Linked DNA regions of Homo sapiens. The protein of the gene in region 4 interacts with the protein of the main gene of each other region in a pairwise test. Each region holds a gene or a part of one and is shown on either strand. Other genes may lie near its edges.

The links. Proteins that work in one complex are often made in the same cells at the same time.
Region 1: the proteins of FRA10AC1 (region 4) and GATD3 interact in a two-hybrid assay, tested with the Homo sapiens proteins (one large-scale study listed by IntAct).
Region 2: the proteins of FRA10AC1 (region 4) and THOC1 interact in a two-hybrid assay, tested with the Homo sapiens proteins (one large-scale study listed by BioGRID and IntAct).
Region 3: the proteins of FRA10AC1 (region 4) and CWC27 interact in a two-hybrid assay, tested with the Homo sapiens proteins (one large-scale study listed by BioGRID and IntAct).

The regions. Positions count from the first base shown.
Region 1 is NC_000021.9:44,140,183-44,144,445, reverse strand, and holds part of GATD3 (glutamine amidotransferase-like class 1 domain-containing protein 3, mitochondrial isoform 1 precursor), read right to left. Parts: intron 4,197-4,263; coding exon 4,104-4,196; intron 3,505-4,103; coding exon of another isoform or gene 3,372-3,504; exon of another isoform or gene 3,283-3,371; coding exon of another isoform or gene 3,048-3,282; exon of another isoform or gene 3,031-3,047; intron 1,242-3,030; coding exon 1,085-1,241; intron 1-1,084.
Region 2 is NC_000018.10:257,285-261,547, forward strand, and holds part of THOC1 (THO complex subunit 1), read right to left. Parts: intron 3,837-4,263; exon of another isoform or gene 3,434-3,836; intron 3,021-3,433; coding exon 2,902-3,020; intron 2,447-2,901; coding exon 2,398-2,446; intron 1,992-2,397; coding exon 1,896-1,991; intron 1-1,895. UniProt on the Homo sapiens protein: Component of the THO subcomplex of the TREX complex which is thought to couple mRNA transcription, processing and nuclear export, and which specifically associates with spliced mRNA and not with unspliced pre-mRNA.
Region 3 is NC_000005.10:64,803,430-64,807,692, reverse strand, and holds part of CWC27 (spliceosome-associated protein CWC27 homolog), read right to left. Parts: intron 3,465-4,263; coding exon 3,307-3,464; intron 95-3,306; coding exon of another isoform or gene 1-94. UniProt on the Homo sapiens protein: As part of the spliceosome, plays a role in pre-mRNA splicing. Probable inactive PPIase with no peptidyl-prolyl cis-trans isomerase activity. As a component of the minor spliceosome, involved in the splicing of U12-type introns in pre-mRNAs.
Region 4 is NC_000010.11:93,691,686-93,696,712, forward strand, and holds part of FRA10AC1 (protein FRA10AC1), read right to left. Parts: intron 3,253-5,027; coding exon 3,176-3,252; intron 1,045-3,175; coding exon 961-1,044; intron 409-960; coding exon 324-408; intron 1-323. UniProt on the Homo sapiens protein: May be involved in pre-mRNA splicing.

The DNA of each region.
Region 1 (4,263 bases), on a different chromosome or scaffold from region 4:
GTGGCAGCACCTCCGCTTTTCAGATGAAGAACTGGCCGTGAAGGAGCCGGTCCTCATGGGGCAGGGCAACAGGCAACAGGGCAGCAGGTGGCACAACTGGGGCCGGCCAGCCACAGACCTGAGCCTCCCCAACACCATGCATGTAACCACTGGCCAGGCCTCCACACCACCCAAGACACGTGCCCCTATCTTCCTGCAAGCAGTCAGAGGCCTGGGGCCAGCCTTGCACTGCGCTCCTGCCCAGCAGGAAAGCCGCAGGGAGGGAGATGGGGCCTGACGTCTGAAGCTGCCTGTGAGAAAAAAGCTGCCCCATTGAGAGGAACTGCACCCTTCAGAACAACACCTGCAGGGGACCGGGTCCATGCTCTACTCATTCCAGTGCCTTCCGGCACCCCGGAGTGTTCTGTTCTCTCAGTTGGGCTCACATGGACATTCTCCCAGATCCAGGCAGGGCCTTCCAGGAGCCTCCCTCCAAATCTCCCTGGGCAACAGCCCCGCTGGTGTTCTTGGTCCATCATCTCAGAACTCAGGGTACACACCTCAACAGGAGGGGCTGGGGGCCGCAAGGCTGGCTGAATCACCTGGCCACCCAAACTGGCCTGAGAACTTCCGCCCAAATGAAGCCAGGAAGCCCCTTCTCCTGCACACCCGGCCGCTTTCCCCCAGCATCTCAGGAAGCCCCCGCCTCCTGCACGCCCGGCTGCTCTCCCTCCACACCTCGCACACACTCTTTCCTCACCCTCCCCCCGCTGGGCCCGGAGTGTGGCTGCCTGGGTGTTGCTGAGCAGACTAAACAGTCAGGCAAGGGACCTGGATCTGCCAGATCTGCCAACCACGCACCAGAGCTGCGCTTCTGACGTGTCTGTGACCCACCTCACACCAGCTGGGCTGTCACAGCCATCTGCTCTCTGCCCTTAGACACATGGCTGCGGTGCCCACTGGGGGAGGCCCCACAGGGAGAGCAGCAGGTGCAGCTCCCGGTGAAGAGGCCACCCACCAAGACAGCCCGGAGGGAGGGGCGTCCCTATGCACGTCTCAGGGACAAGCACGACAGCGGGCCGGGCCTGGCTACCAGGAAGGATATGACCACTTCCTTCACGCAGTGCTTGGCACCCAGGGCCTTGATGGCCTCTGCGGTCCCGGCATAAGGCCACTTGCCACCTTCCTCCTGCTCGTGGCCCACAGTCACCTCGACGCCTCTGAGCACCTTGGCCGCGAGGACAGGTGCAATGCAGCACAAGCTGAAAGGCGAAAAGAACACGGGTCAGGCAGGCTGCATGGCCTGCAGAACAGAAATTACCCTCGCCATGACCCCAGGCTGCCCTGCCACGGGAGCCCTGCCGACCCTGCCCCCTGTGAGCCTGCGCTGCCAGAAGGCTGTGGCCCATGGGATGTGATGGAGGTGGCACCAGGTGACTCAAGGCTGAGAGTGAGGTGTCCTCAGCCCCACTCCCCGCCAAGCACGCCCTGCAGGCACTCAAGCACCAGGCCAAGGACCCCTGAGGGGAACCCCCAACAGCCATGGGCTAAGCCCCAAGCCCCAGGACACCCCAGACTGGCGAGAGTCCCGGGCTGCCAAAGTCCACTCACAGAGAGGGTAATGATGTGCGGCTGCCCCAGCCCTGAGTTGTGGGGTGGTCTGTGACCCAGCAATAGATAACACAGCTGCACTTCTCATTCACACCAGCCCCCCTTCTACAGGAGGCACAACGGGCCAGGAGCAGCCTCGCCAGCCTCCGACCTGCAGCACAACTCTCAACAAGTGCAGGCTGGTGGACGCACGCCCCTGACCCTGACGCACAGGCCGCAGCAGCCCTGAAACTGAGGGTCCTGCCACACCCACCCCTGGGACCTGCTTCTGCTTCATCAGGAACCCCTCCCTGCCAAGTCAACAGAGGCCCCTGTGTGCCAGGCACTGTGCCCACAGCAGGGCCTTCAGTGACCTGTGTCGTCCAGCGCCTCATGGCCACCCAGGGGCAACAGTGGAAGGAGTACGGCCTCATTAACAGCAGCCCCATCCCCTGGCAACCTGTGGTGTAGCCCACAGCTGTCAGGCCCCACCCTGCCCTCAACACCCCGCACCCTTCATCCCTCCTCCCGCTGTCTACAGTCCTACCCACTCCCGACAGGCCCAGGTGGAAACTGCTACCGTGAGCTGTAACGAAACACTGTTAAAAACACATTTCACAGCCAGGTGCAGTGGCTCATGCCTGTAATCCCAGCACTTTGGGCAGCTGAGGCAGGCAGAACACCTGAGGTCGGGAGTTCGAGACCAGCCTGACTAACATGGCGAAAACTTGTCTCTATTAAAATTACAAAAGTTCGGCCTGGTGGCAGACACCTGTAATCCCAGCTACTTGGGAGGCTGAGGCAGGAGAATTGCTTGACCCCGGGAGGCGGAGGTTGCAGTGAGCCAAGATCACTCCAGCCTGGGCAACAGAGCGATACTCTCAAAACAAACCCGCCCCCAAAACTGCATGTCCTGAAGCAACTTCTGGCTGCCTATGAGATGAAACCCCCCTGCCGCCCTCTGCGCAGGCAGAAAGTCCAGGAAGCAGGTTCTCAGCAGCTCCCGACGCTGCGTGCAGCCGCCCAGCCATCAACTGCCAGCTACAGATGCCACAGTGGCTCCTGGCACAGCCCAGCGCCCACCTCGACTACTGCATTCAAGGAAGGGGTCCCAGCAGTGAGCGGCTGGGCCGCCTAACAGCCCCTGGCTGGCCACGCAGGCCTCTGACACCAGGCTGAGGGGTGGGTGGGGCCAGTGGGAAAGGATTTAGGTTTCCTCAGGAAAAAAGCCTGTGGGTCACCGTGCACGGAAGCCCCATGGCTGGACCGGGGAGCAGACGGGCTTGTGCCCTGCAGTTTTCAGGGGAGCCTCATGGCTGGACCGGGGAGGAGACAGGCTTGCGCCCTGTGCTGTTTCCAGGGGAGCCTCATGGCTGGATTGGGGAGGAGATGGGCTTGCGCCCCACACTGTTTTCAGGGGAGGCATGCTCAGAGGCAGTGGTTCACCTGCCAGGGGCTGTCTTGTTTCATCGAGATTTTTAATCAGTCACAGAAGAAAGGGCCATGGGCTCCTCCCTCTGGGCGCTCATCCAAGGAACACTTCTCTGACAAGGACGGGATCCCGAGGTGGAGACCATGGGCGAAACCTTCACCCCGGCTGTGACACGGCTGCAGCAGGGACCTCCTTCAGGAGCTCTGAGCCTGCACCTCTTCCTGAGGCTCCACTTTAGGGGCCTCCCTGGACAGTGACCAGGCAGGTCCTTAAGTGAGTGACTGTGGATGGGGAGACAGAGGATTCCGATAGATCCTCATCCTTGTTCGGCTGACAGAACTCGGTAGTGAGCGGCCATCGCGAGTGCGCCTCACTGATGTTCACCCACGCAAGTGCGGCTCTCGCCCTGCCAGCACCAGACGCAGCTGAGACCTGGACAGCACAGCGCCGCGTTCCAGGACCACCAAGGAGCAGGTGCCGGGAGGCTCGTGGAAGCATCACACCTGCCGAGGCGGAACCCGGCCTTGCTGGGTCACCCTCACACATCTGAGAGTGACTTCCCGGCAGCAGACGCTGAAGAGCACACACTCCCTGCGGGGCTGCGACCCGCCACGTAAGCCAAGGCGCTTACGTGGATGAAGGAGTGGGCGCCCTACTCGTGCCGCCAACCTCAGGACCCAGGCTTTGTCTGAGCAGGGACAAAGGGGCGTGGTTGGCTGTGGCTCCCCAGGAGGGAGGCCGCTGGGAGTGGATGGCGTCAGGGATGGAGCACGTGCTGCAGTGACTGGCCAGAAGTCAGCGGGGTTGGGGGTACTGTGGCTAAGGGGCTTGGGAGAAGGGGTCTGGTAAAGGATAGGGGTCCTGAGGGACTGCCTAGGGACACCTCTGGGAGCCAAGAGAATTCCAGGCCTCCTCTAGGGAAGTGCACTGTGCCTCTCCTTCCTGTTAAGTCACCAGTGACATCGTGTGAAATCCCCTCAGTTAAAACAAGAAAAGCAGCTGTGAGTTTTCAGGATCAGCGGCAGCTCCTGGCTGAGAACAGAGGCCGCGGGCCCACGCACCCTCCTCCCTCCCTCCCCGAGGCCTGCACGGCTGTACACACCCGATGGGCTTCCCGGCCTGGTGGAACTCCTTCAGGACACGCTCCACTTCTTTATTCACCTTGCAATCTTTCCCGTCCACGGCAAACGTGCTCCTACCGGGAGACAAAAGGCCTCCTCAGACAGCCTCACAACCAGGGTCTATTCCTGGGGGGCTTCCTA
Region 2 (4,263 bases), on a different chromosome or scaffold from region 4:
GAATAATTTATAATTCTGTTGGAAGCACAAATGTAAATTATATTAATGAAAAAGTGATAATGTATAACAAATAAGTAAATACATTATAGTTAATGAGAGCCAAGTTTCTTACTGTTAGAGAAAGAGGTTAATAAACAGATCTACTGGTGCTGGATTCAACTCAGAGGTATCAGTAGAATCTCATATTTTTTGCTGCTGTTCATGTAAAATATATACTGACAGATACAGAAACAAATACAGATGAGTATGGTTAGTATACACATATGTCTCTCCTAGCTCTGGTCTCTGAGAGGGCCTAGAAGTAGTGATACTCCAGTAGCAATGAGCACATCTTCTCAAACGTAACAGCCAATGATAACCAGACACACAAAGAGGCAAGATACCATGAGTGAGAAACAGTCAAAACAGACAGGAGAAACAGACCCACCAAGACTTATTTAAGGTATTGGCATTACCAGATACAGACAATAAAGTAACAATGTTTACCAAGTTTAGAAAACTAAAAAAAACAATTCTTAAGAAATTATTCAGAATCAGGTAGAGAGAGACAAACAGATGAAAAAATATATAAGGAGTAAAAAACAGAGGATACAGTGAGAAGGTATAATGGATGTTTAATTGAAGTTCCAGAAAAAGAAAAAGATAAAGAGGCATACACAATATTTGAAGAGATAATGGCTAAATTTTTACAAACTAGATGGAAGAATCTAATCCATACATTCAAGATGTCCACAATCCTAAGCAGGACAAATAAAAAGAAATTTACACAGAGATACATCATAGTAAAACTAAAAGAAAACCAAAGGAGAAAAAAAATCTTAAGCGCAGAGAAAAAAATGTAGATTATCTTCAAGAAGTGAGACTGACATCTGACTTGTCAATAGAAAAATGGGAAACAGAAGACAAAGTAAAGATTATTTCCCGTGAGATGAAATCCTGTATCTAGTGCCAATCTAGAATCTTATACCTATTGGGAGGAGGTCAAAATACCAATATTAACAGGAGTTTGGAAGAAAGAAAGGAAAAAAAATAAAGGAGAAGTAACGATTTTTAGGCAAAACACAGACCTGCACTGAAGAAAAGTCTAAAAGGGAAAATGATCACAGACAGAAAGCCAGAAATACAAGAAGTGGTAAATCTATATTAACCCTGACCACATAAAATAAGTATGAAAGAAAACAGCACAGACATAAGATGACAAAAAGAAAGCACATAAACCACTGCTAACATATGCTATAGGTCTTTCTACATGCAGGCACTAATGTAAGCTCTTCACATGTTTTAATTCATTTAATCCTCAGAACATATAAAGTAGGTGGTACATTAGCCCAATATTAAGGAAGGGAGGACTGAAGCAAGGAGATATTAAAATCTCGCATATTTGAACATACTGGGGAGGCGGAAGGCTCTGGAGGACAAGCAATGTCCCATTTCAGGAGCTAGATAGTGGTTATACAGTATTTGTTTCATTATTATTCGCTTTATGTACTTTTCTATATGAGCGTTATATTTCACAATAAAAATTTGTTAAAAAAAGAGAAATGAAAGGAAGTCTATATAGCTAAATAGTTGTGACTGAGAGAAAATCCAAACACAAAAATAGGCATACATTATGAAATACGGATATGATGGTTCATATCTACATGTTTCAGTGTGATTCAACTTTACATTAATAAGCTTTGAACTTAAAAGAATCCATGACTTTGTTTCAGGATTACCTGTATTATATACTAGGACTGCTATACATTTATAAGTAAAAGAAAATAAAGTGACAATTTCTATGATGTCTTTCAACTTTTTAGAACCATTTTTCTCATTATCATGACAGATTTTAATCTATTAAAAACTGGAAAAGATTTTCCTGCAGAAAACTCATTTAATGCATAAAAGCTTACCTGATTTCTCAGACAGAGGGAAAAGCCTGGCCAAAAAGAGCTGAATCCGTCCACAGAAGACTGTATTCTGGGATTTAGACAATCTTCTTAGGAGATCTAACAATATATGAAAATGAACGTTACACAGAAAAGATAATTCTATGTTTATTACAACCACACCTAAAAGTTTCTAAACCAGTGTGTCAAGAGTATTTTCCTAAAGCAGTAGTTCTTAAATTGGGGGCCGAAACCACTGCCACAAAAAAGTACTATAAATTAGGAACAAAACAAGTTCAACATGACATGAAAAAGACAAACTTTACTACGTTTCTGACTTTAAGCTTATGCCCAGAACAAAAACAGTTTAAAGTGAATAATGAGTTCTAACAAATCAGATTGTTAGTTAAAAATGCAGATACCTAATCTATCTTTAAAATGTTATCACTGGTATTTAATTCAACCATGTGTTTTTCTGGGCATATTTACACTTAAAAAGCAATCATTTTATCACTCAATTACTTACCATTGCACATACGTAGTAAGTAATTTTTCCCAGCAGAATAGAATGTATTCTGAAATTAAGACGGAAATTATCACTCTTCTTCAGAACTTGTTACACATTCTTCAATAATAAGTTGCCAGAGTGAAATATTAAAGAACACTAACATGCACTGAGAATCTACTATGCCACTTTCACTTTTTTTAAGCAAATAACATTTTCAATGAAATAAAAATATTTTCAGATATAAGAAAACATGATACTAAGTAACTGTTTTAAACATGTGAAAGTGTGAATTTTCAAGTTAATTTTTATTACACAAATTAAATCAAATTTTGTATTTCAAGTTTTTCTCCACACATGGTTTTTATTTGGCTCTCCCGAGAGAGCAGTATATAATTTTTTCATAGGCAGAAACTTGTTGGCATTCAGCAATACTACAAATAAATTTAAAAAAAAAAATCTACCCTCAGAATTCTGGATCTATAGAAAGATAAAGTTAGCAGGAAAAGAAACTAAGGCACTTACTGATTTCCAAGTAGCAACATTTTTTTCCACAAAAGTGAATATTGTGTCACACTGATCCAAAGGAAGACAATCCAAAACATCTCCCAACAATACAAAAGGTGTAGATGCGGTACAAATACCTTCAAGTGGAGCACAAGCCAATTTAAAAGTTTAAAAAACTGTAGAGTAGAATAGCCTATGAAAAATAATTCTGAAGAATATCTTAAAAGGTACACTTTGTTACTCATAACAAGGTTTTAAAAGGACAAGAAGTGGAAGCAACCTAAAAGTCCCCAAATAGGACATACTTAAGTAATTTTTGATATGTGCACTCAGTAATGATGACAATAATTCTTGACAAGATCTAGAGCATTTACTATATGTCAGGCACACTAAGTACTTTACATATACTAACACATTTAATCCTTACAATCCTATGAGGTAGAGCATATCATTATTTGCATTTTATAGAATGGGAAAACTGAGACACAGAGAGGTTAAATAACTTCACCAAGATCATAGAGCCAGTAAGTGGTAGAGCTGGGATACGAACCCAGGCAGTCTGGCTCCACAGTCTGTTTTCTTCACCACTAAGCTATTCAAAAGAATATAATGCAGCCAATTAAAAATGATGGTTATAACGACTATAATAACTTGGAAAAATGCTTATGATATAATGCTAAGTGAAAAAAGGCAGGATTCAAAATTGTATGTACATATGGTTATGACAATAAAAAAAATTCTTAAAAGACTATAGAAACTAAAACCATTATACCAGATGAATGGTAGCTTTTAAAAGTAGAGGAATTAAGAGTACTGTTTTCCCTTCTTATTTCTAAATGTTTTGTAATGTTGCTAAATTGTCTTTGTGATTTGAAAAGATTATCTTCAAAAAATAACAAGGTTTGATATTAACTATGATTCAACATTTAAAATAACAGTATTGTTTCAGGGGAAAGAATGGAAAAGTAGAAAGTTACTGTTTAAAGAACAACAAAATTAAGATTTTTCTTAAGAAAAGGTCTACGTAGTCTATCTAGACTACTTAGAATACTTTTATATCCCTACTCATTCTTCCTTCTATTTTAAGGCAATGAGTACTTACTAACACTCATAAGTGTTTAAGAAAAGTAGTCACTTAGGCATGGTATATGGAGGAAAAATATCTAGGGTGATCTAAGCCCAAAACAGTGCATTAATATACTATGTCCAGAAAAAAGGAAGAAATATTTCCAGCTGTACTCTGCACTAGTAAGATCATATCTGGAATGCGACGTGAGGGATATTGCCTAGAAGCAGTGGGTGAAATAAAACAGCAGATTTCAACTCAATACAAGGGAACACACCAATAACCACATTTGTCTAACAGGACTCAAACAGTGA
Region 3 (4,263 bases), on a different chromosome or scaffold from region 4:
ATCTAGAAATCCATAATAATACCAGCTTGTATATGCCTGTGTGATTCTGCTGAGCTGTATCCAGTAGTCAAGATACAGGCATAGAGAAGGTGGGCTGGAAAGAAAGTGGGATTGGTACATTTTAAAAAGGGAAGAGACAAGGGATTAGAAATCCTAGGAAGTCAGAATAGATATAAGGGTGCCGATTCTCTAAGGAGAGAAACTAGGAAGCGTTTTGGATTTGTATTTCCCCTGAGCTCTTTTTTCAAATGAACAACTAGAGACATTGTTGAGAACACATTACTAGGAGAAGATCCTACTATATGTAAACTTGTTGAAAATTATTCTGTTAAATATCATTCCCCAGTTTAAATATTAAGCACTCAATAAATACATGTGTAGGTTTAACATCCAAAAGTGATAACCAGCTTTAACAGATTCCAGATGTTTCCTTACCAATAGAAGCAATACCACACGTTTTCAGTAAAATTATACTTTGAACGGCTCATTGCTTAAAGGGCTGGTGGGCTAGTCTAGTTTCTGATCCTACTGCTTAAATGGAAGAATGACCAAAGGATAATAGAGTACTTCAAGCACACCCTGATGAAAACTCATGTATCAAGAGTACACATTTTTGAATAGATAATGATATCACACTGACATCCTATCTGGCTGGCAGCTATACCCATTATAACTCAAACTGAGCAGTGACTTTCCTTTAAATATAATTATCCCTTTTACCACGTTGTAGTTTTTCAGTACATTTGGAGCTTTCCTGTGTTGTTTTATTTTTTAACCATAAAGTTAACTTCAGAGACTCGCTGGTATAAATAACCAAAAGTACTAATGATTTGGAAATTTATTAAAATTTATTTTTATTTTTTTAGAGACAGGGTCTTGCTCTGTTGCCCATACAGGATCATAGCTCACTGCAGCCTAGAGCTCCTAGGCTCAAGCAATCCTCCCACCTCAGCCTGCTGAGCAGCTGGGATTACAGGCATGAGCCACCATGCCAGGGTCTGATTTTGGCAACTTTATGAACTGAAAAAAATACGTGGTCATGAGACAATCATGGAAATTTCTACACTAGAGGAAAAAACTGTTTCTTCCTTTTGAAATTCTGTACTTTCTCCTCTATCCTGACCTTATTTTTCTTTTGTTTCTCTTTGTAGGTAGGACAGATAGGATGAAGGAGGGAGAGTAGAGAATGTGAATAATGAAAATGTGGGGGAACAGAACAGTTATAAATAAATGTGTGCTGTCTGCACCATTTACAAAGGCACACTTTGCCAATTATTTTACCTAAAAGAATCCAACAATGTCCACAATACTCATGTTTACCTAAAATATTCAAGCCACCTTTGGAGACTTCTTATTTAATTTACTTTTCTAAGTAGAAAAGTATTTAACGTACTTTTTAAATTTATTTAATTTTCTTAGTAGACTTGCAATGCACTTGAATATAACTTTTTCCTCTACAGTGAATATACAAATTATGTGATTTTAATTTTGCAAATTATACTGATTTATAAAAAGAGAAAAATTGTTTACATAAGTAAGTGGATATATATGTTCCTATGTAAGAAATTACCATAAAAACTAAGCTTTAAATGTCTGTTAAGTCATCCAGTCTATGGTATTTTGTATAATAGCCCAAAACACTCCTCTATCAATCCATTCTCCATACTAAATACAATCTCAATATATCATTTGCCTGTAAAAACTTCAGTGGCTCTCCAGTATTCTCATGATAGATCAGATTCCTAAATCTAGCTATCAATGCCATGTTTGGTCATCAGGCCCATACTACAGCCAAGGAAATCTTTTAAGAATAACCCTTAATTGTAAGAGTGAACACAATTTTGGAAAATGCAAACTTTGACTTTTCTTAATATTAGGTAAACAATTTTTTAAAGACACTTATGAAAGGTACATTAAAAATGAACTTTAGTTCTTATACAAAATTTAGCATTGCTAAATTATAGTTTATATTATAGGGTATATAAGTATTTGAAATTGATTAAAGCCTACAAGACTGAGTTGGGAGTTTAAGGAACACTTAAATCTAACATAAATAAATATTTGGTTGGCTCATCTATTAAAATTTTTAAATATATTTTTGTTACATTATAAACCTAACCTTTAAAAAAATTCATAATTTTTTAAAATCAGAAAACACATGCCTTGAATGAGAGGAATAAAACATTATGTATCCATAATTATATTCATGATTTAACTAAAAGTTACAGTGTGAATGAGAGGTTTTTCAACTCTATGAATCTAGAAGCATGCATATGATCACTAAAATCTTTAGTCTATATTAGCTACTATGTATGGTATATATAATATAATCTAGTATGTAAAATTATTCAACAGTGATTACTTGAGTGTCAGGTGAATATTGCTGGAAAAAAGACATTTAAGATGACTCCTAAGTACCATTTCTAAATGTTAAAAGCTATGCTTTTAGTGGAAATTTCTGGGAATCATTTTTATTTGATTACATAAAGAAAAAATTGAGGGAGCTATGCAATGATAGCGTGGAAATCCTTTTTAAGTTTTTCTACATGTGGTTGAGAAACATGATAGGGAAAAAGAATGTTATTTAAATGTAGTTACATTCATATTATCCCCAAATAGTATTTGAAGAAAACAAATACTATTGTTTTTTAAAGCAATATTATTTAAAATGTATACTATAAAGTTGAAATAGAATCACAAAAGAGATAATTTTTCAATTAAGTTGAATTTCAGGAGAATAAAATGTTGAGTCATAAATCCAACAAACTTTCATCACCAGACAGTAAACTTTTCACCATTTGCTGAAATTTATTTTATGATACTACTGAGCTTAGGATAGGTATATGGTATTTGGTAAATCAGACTTGAAAAGATATTTAAGAATGTTTTCAGGCTCACTCATTTTCTTCATCAGTTTTGACAAATTTTGCTTACCGAAATTATTTGAGGATGTCTCTTTTCTTTCTATACAATTACTCTACTGCTCTCATTGGTATTTAACAAATGCATTCTTCCACATCTAGCTAATACATTATTACCCTATATATATGAAAGTATAGAGCCTTTCTAAAAAAGGATCAGAGAGAAATAAAATGGAATTGAACTCATAGGATCATTGTTATGTTTACTTTAAGCTTGGTGTATTTTATTTTAGGCCTGCTAATGGGCCAATTTGTACAACTGTTATGTTTATCAAACATTATGAAAATAGTATTTTAAAAATTAGCTGAAGAGAGGATTCAATCTGAATTAAAGTGAAATATAAAAAGACAAAAACTCTGATATCTAGCACAGTAACTGACTCACCTGCGGCTGACTGATTTCTTCTCCACTTCTCCTTCTCCAGCTGATTTAACATTCGCACTTGTGTCCTTTTTTAATTTTTTGGCAATTCTTTCTCTCATCAGGTTCTTTTCATCACCATCAATATATTCATCATGCTCTGCACTTTCATCTTCTCCATCCTGTAGAAATGGAAAATGAGTATTTGCCAGGTGCTCAATTTCCCCTTTCATTTCTAGAGATCTATTGCATCCACTGAATCTCCTTATTGCATTCTAAACTAGGTTTTTTTTTTTATTTTGTTTTCTTTTGTTTTGAATTATAAGCCCTTGAAGAATCTGCTACAGGTGGGAATAGCCCTGGGTTCTGCTCTAAGCCAACTATGTAATTATGGGATACCCCAGGAAAGGCTGTTCGCTCAACTCATGCCCAGCTCCTTTGTGCAGCAGACTTCTCCCTCTGTGTCACTCGGGCTATTCTGTCTATATTCCTATTCTTATCTCAGTGGGAAATGTGGCTTTTGAAGGCAGTTGGCCAGCATACTGACCTCAACAGGGATCAATTCAAGTAGAAGAGGTGTAGTGCAGAAGCTGAGATTTCTATAATCCAAGTCACAGCAATCACTTCTCTTGTGAAAACCCTCTAGTGGGTCCCCAACTCACTCAAGGCCCTATGCAATCTAAACCTCCCTGACATAATCTCCTACAACTCCAGCCCACCAACACTAGCCAACTTTGGAGTTGTTGTTCTCTCCAGCCTGAAACAAATACTCTATTCCAGATATCTCTTCATTGCTTGCTCTTTCATCTCCTTCAGATCTTTGCTCAAATGTTACCCTCTTGGTGATGAGATTAACCTATTAAAATGGTAGAACCACACACTTACCTCCAGTACTCTTTCATCTTCCCTGGCTTATTTTCCAAAGTACTTATCACCTATCTGATACACCATATATTTTAATTATTTGCATGTGTATTGTCT
Region 4 (5,027 bases):
AGTCATTCATTACAATCACTAGAGGCTCTAGACTAGAGTCAGGATGAAACAGGATCCAATACCCACTTGCGTTTAATTTTAGACTTTTCATGCCTCAGCTCACAAACAAAAAAAAGCATCCTTGTCCTTCATAAATTTCCATAGGCCTTTTGTAAACTCCACAGCTGCAGAGGTTAAATGGTCCAAATGACACATCATAAACGCAGGACAACTGAGTCTAGAATTAGCATCTTTAAAAGAATAATGTGGGGCATGACAGTATAATAAAAGTTAATATTTTACTTGAATAAGAACCTCTTTCCATAAATATGTGGAAAGCATACCTTATTTTCTTTATATTTACTGAGATCTGCTATGCAGTATTCCTTAAATAATTTATCATAGTATTTCTTAGCAAGTCTCTTCTCCCTAGACCCATGAAAATATAAATATTATACATTTAGAAACTCAACCATGGTTTGCTACTTTCAAGTGATGTCAAAGAATACATACTACATAAATATTAATGTTTTAAGAGAACTATTACTTACATGTGCATGGAATATCTGGATATTAACTATTAAAAGTGGTTCACTCAGGGAGGGAAATTGGAGAACTGACAGTCACAAATAAGAAGGAGAATCACTCTTCACTGTTTACCCTTTGTAATGTTTGGATTTAAAAAAACATTTTCAGGTATGACTTTTTTCTAAAACAGCAGCATATAATAACATATTACAAGATAACACACAATACTGTAAAAAAGAATGTTATTTTTTTGAAGACTAAGTCAAACAATGAGAAGTCAGTTAAAACTGCCAAAAATTACCAAAAGAACCAAATAATCCTAGGCTTGATTTTATGTCCTTGATTCAGAACTGTTCTATGAAGGGGCTGAACACCTTGACTAAAAAACCACTCAGAAAACAGGAGAAACAGGACTAAAGCATTTGATGCATTACGCCTCTGATGGCTAATTACCAAGTCATGTCCATTTCGTCCTCCTCATTCCATAGGAATCTATGATTTTCTCGTATAACATCCAAGTCTGTCTTGTCATTTTCCCTGGAAAACAGAACTTTTTCAATTTAATACAAAAACAAAAGTAGTCAAATTTAGGTTAAATAGCTCTGTGAGTTTTGGAAAATTTTATTAAAAATATAATACATGAAGATAGTTTTTTGGTGAGTATAAATTTGTTCACATATTTATAAAAATATTTCAGTATTTTCAAAAGGCACTTATAAAAATACTACTACAGAAGCAAGTTAAATGGATAAGGAATCTGTCTGTAGCATTGGTTTCAATTATACAAATGGTGCTAAGTTACCAAAGCTAGAATGAGAAACCTGACTAAACACTAAATGAATAAAGTGAATGAAAATAAGTTTCATTCTAACCAACCACTCTGCTGAGATTTAATTTTAAAAAATATGAAAAGTTTTCCGTATCTCATTTTACTAGTTTCCTAGGTAGAAGACTGAGTAAAGGAGGAAGAAAGCCAAAGGGATTGACCTTTCAAAATAAAATGCTAACAGTCTGGGGGTAAAAAAAAAAAGGAAAAAAAAAAGTGATTGTTGGGAGATATAGGATAAATTGATAGGTGAGATAAATTGGGGGTAAATGAGGTGGTACTAAATTTTCTCAGAGTCCTACCAACTCAGAAAATTGTTAGAGGGAAAAAAAAAACCTCACATAAAACTAAGAAGTTCTAAGACACACACACACTATAGCAGCACAATTCGCAATTGCAAAGCTATGGAACTGACCAAAGTGCCCATCAACCAATGAGTGGATAAAGAAAATGTGGTGTGTGTGTATATATATATATATATATATATATACACCATATATATATATATACACCATATATATATATATATACACACATACATACACCATATATATATACACACCATATATATATACACACCATATATATACACACCATATATATATACACACCATATATATACACACCATATATATATACCATATATATATACACCATATATATATATATATACCATATATATATACACACACCATTTATATATACCATGGAATACTACTCAGCCATAGAAAGGAATGAAATGATGTCTTTTTGCAGCAACTTGGATGGAGCTGGAGGCCATTATTCTAAGTGAAGTAACTCAGGAATGGAAAATCAAATATCATATGTTCTCATTTATATGTGGGAGCTAAGCTATGAGGATGCAAAGGCAAAAGACTGATATAATGGACTTTAGGGACTCAATGTGGGGGAAGGCCAGAAGGGAGGTGAGGGATAAAAGACTACATTTTAGGTATAGCATACAGTGCTTGGGTGATGGGTGCACTAAAATCTCAGAAATCACCACTAAAGAACTTATCCAGGCAACCAAAAACCACCTGTACCTCAAAAACTATTGAAATAAAAATAAAAATTTAAAAAAACAAAAACAAAACAAAACAAAAAACAAGTTCTGATAGAAGAGCCTTAAACATGGGAAGGACTTTGATGTGCAAGAAATGCTAGACTGAGAGTTCTTGTTTACCTATCTTTTAAAAAGCAATCCCAAACATCAAGGTATAAAAATTTCCTTATTTCAAAGATCTTTGCCAAGAAGACACATGAGTATTCTTCAGATATTCTTTTATCACCAGGGTTGTGCCCGGCTCAGCAGGTAAAGAGTCTACCTGAGGCCTGTCCAAAAAAATGGGATTCATGAAGAGCTACTCAGGAGCTGTGGATGGTATCTCTACCTTATAATATAAAAAAGAAACTGGGGCCAGGTGCAGTGGCTCACGCCTGTAATCCCAGCAGTTTGGGAGGCCAAGACAGGTGGATCACAAGGTCACGAGTTCAAGACCAGCCTGGCCAAGATGGTGAAACCCCGTCTCTACTAAAAATACAAAAATTAGCCAGGCATGGTGGCAGGAGCCTGTAATCCCAGCTACTCGGGAGCCTGAGGTAGGAGAATCGCTTGAACCACAGCGGCACAGGTTGCAGTGAGCCGAGATCAAGCCACTGTTCTCCAGCCTGGGCGACAGAGTGAGACTCCATCTTAAAAAAAAAAAAAAAAAAAAAAAAAAAAAAAGGCACACCGGAATAGAAAGCAGGGAAGAATGACAGAATCAGAAGGCACAGTAGCTGTGGGTCTTTAAAGTTTCCCATAACCCACATTCCCTTCTATGTAAACTTCCTGATACTTACCCCAAACGCTTGAAGTCTTCTTTTTTGCCACCATAGTATAAAATATAGTCATTTACGAACTTTGTATGTCTTTGATACTGAAATGCAAAAAATTAAGGATTTTATTCTCTTAGGAGCTGTTTGGTGTCATAATATATTGCTGATTGGTGGTAAAAAAAAGCACAATATGAGTCTATTTAGCTTTTTAAAAATATTCACACACTATACATGCTTACACATTCAGAAAATCTAGAAGGGTATATATTAAATTGTTGAAAGTGAAGATTGTAAAGTACAGGCTTTCTTTTGACTATTTTTCAAGCATATACTACTCTTGTGATAAAAATATACCTCCATCTGGGGAGAAATAGAGCTTCTTATTCTATTGCTGAACTGCATATAGCCTCCTACCACCACTCATTCTAATAATCACAATATGAAAAATTTAAAAATTATAGTTTCTAAAAGTAGAGAATTTATCTTTCATTATCATAAAATATAATTTATCTATTTTAGTAATGATAAAGCCTCTAAATAGAAGATGCAACTTTTATAATTATATTTATAATTTATAATTAAATCCCAACATTAAACTTTCAAAAAAGCAAATATAAAAAATCAATTTTTATAGTCTTTTAAATTCAAAGAATAAAATGCCATGTTTTTTCAAAGCATTGTAACAAAATATATGAGCATTTTACTTTTTGTTTTAAAAAGCTCAACAGCACTCTCTCTAGAGCCAAACATGCACATAATAGCTAACCTCACCTTCTACAATATTCTCTGTGACTATTAAACATGTATAGTGATTTAACTGATCATAATGTGTACTAACAGACAATTTAATCAGATTATGGTATTTCCATATTGTAACAAACCAGTTAATATTTCAGGAAAAAAAAAAAAGAGAGAGACAGAAAAACCAAATACCTGGAGATCTGGATTCTAGCTCTTGATCTACCACTAACTGGTCACATGACCATGGCAAGTCATGTAACCTATTAGAGCTGGGGTCAGCAAACATTTTCTGCAAACGGCCAGATGGTAAATATTTCAGGCTTTGCAAGCCATATGGTCTCTGTTGCAAATGCTCAGTTCTGCCATTTTAGCATGAAAGCAGCCAAAGACAACATATAAATGAAGCATGGCTGTATTCCAATATAATTTTATGTACAAGAACAGGTGGTGGGTGTAACTTTTGCTTCCGGGAAGATGGAGTAGGCAAAGATGTACTTCTCCCTATTCCTCATACTAATAACAACTAAAATCCTTATACATTATATATCAAACATAAAAAGACTCTAAAAGGTGGAAGGAAGAAGGCGCCCCGCTAGGGACCTCCTGAAGACCTATGGTATGACATGATAGCGAGTTCCCTAGGTTTTCTTTTTGTCTCATGTATCCTAGAATTGGAGGTAAAGAAGGTGACAACCCGGAAACACCAACAGGCACGGACTAAAAAATCGTCAACAAAAGCTGTTCTCTCTAACCAAATGACCAAGAGTCAGCCTAGCAAGACAACTTTGAGACAATAACTACTCTACTCTTGTCAAACAACCCAGAGAAAACTGTGGTTCCCAGTCAGAATCGCAATTATTAAAAAGTCAGGAAACAACAGATGCTAGCAAGGCTGTGGAGAAATACGAACACTTTTACACTGTTGGTGGGAATGTAAAATGGTTCAACCATTATTGAAGACAATGTGGCAATTCCTCAAGGACCTAGAACCAGAAATAACATCTGATCCAGCAATCCCATTACTGGGTATATACCAAAAGGAATATAAATCATTCTATTATAAAGATACATGCACATGTATGTTTATTGCAGCACTATTCACAATAGCAAAGACATGGAACCAATCCAAATGTCC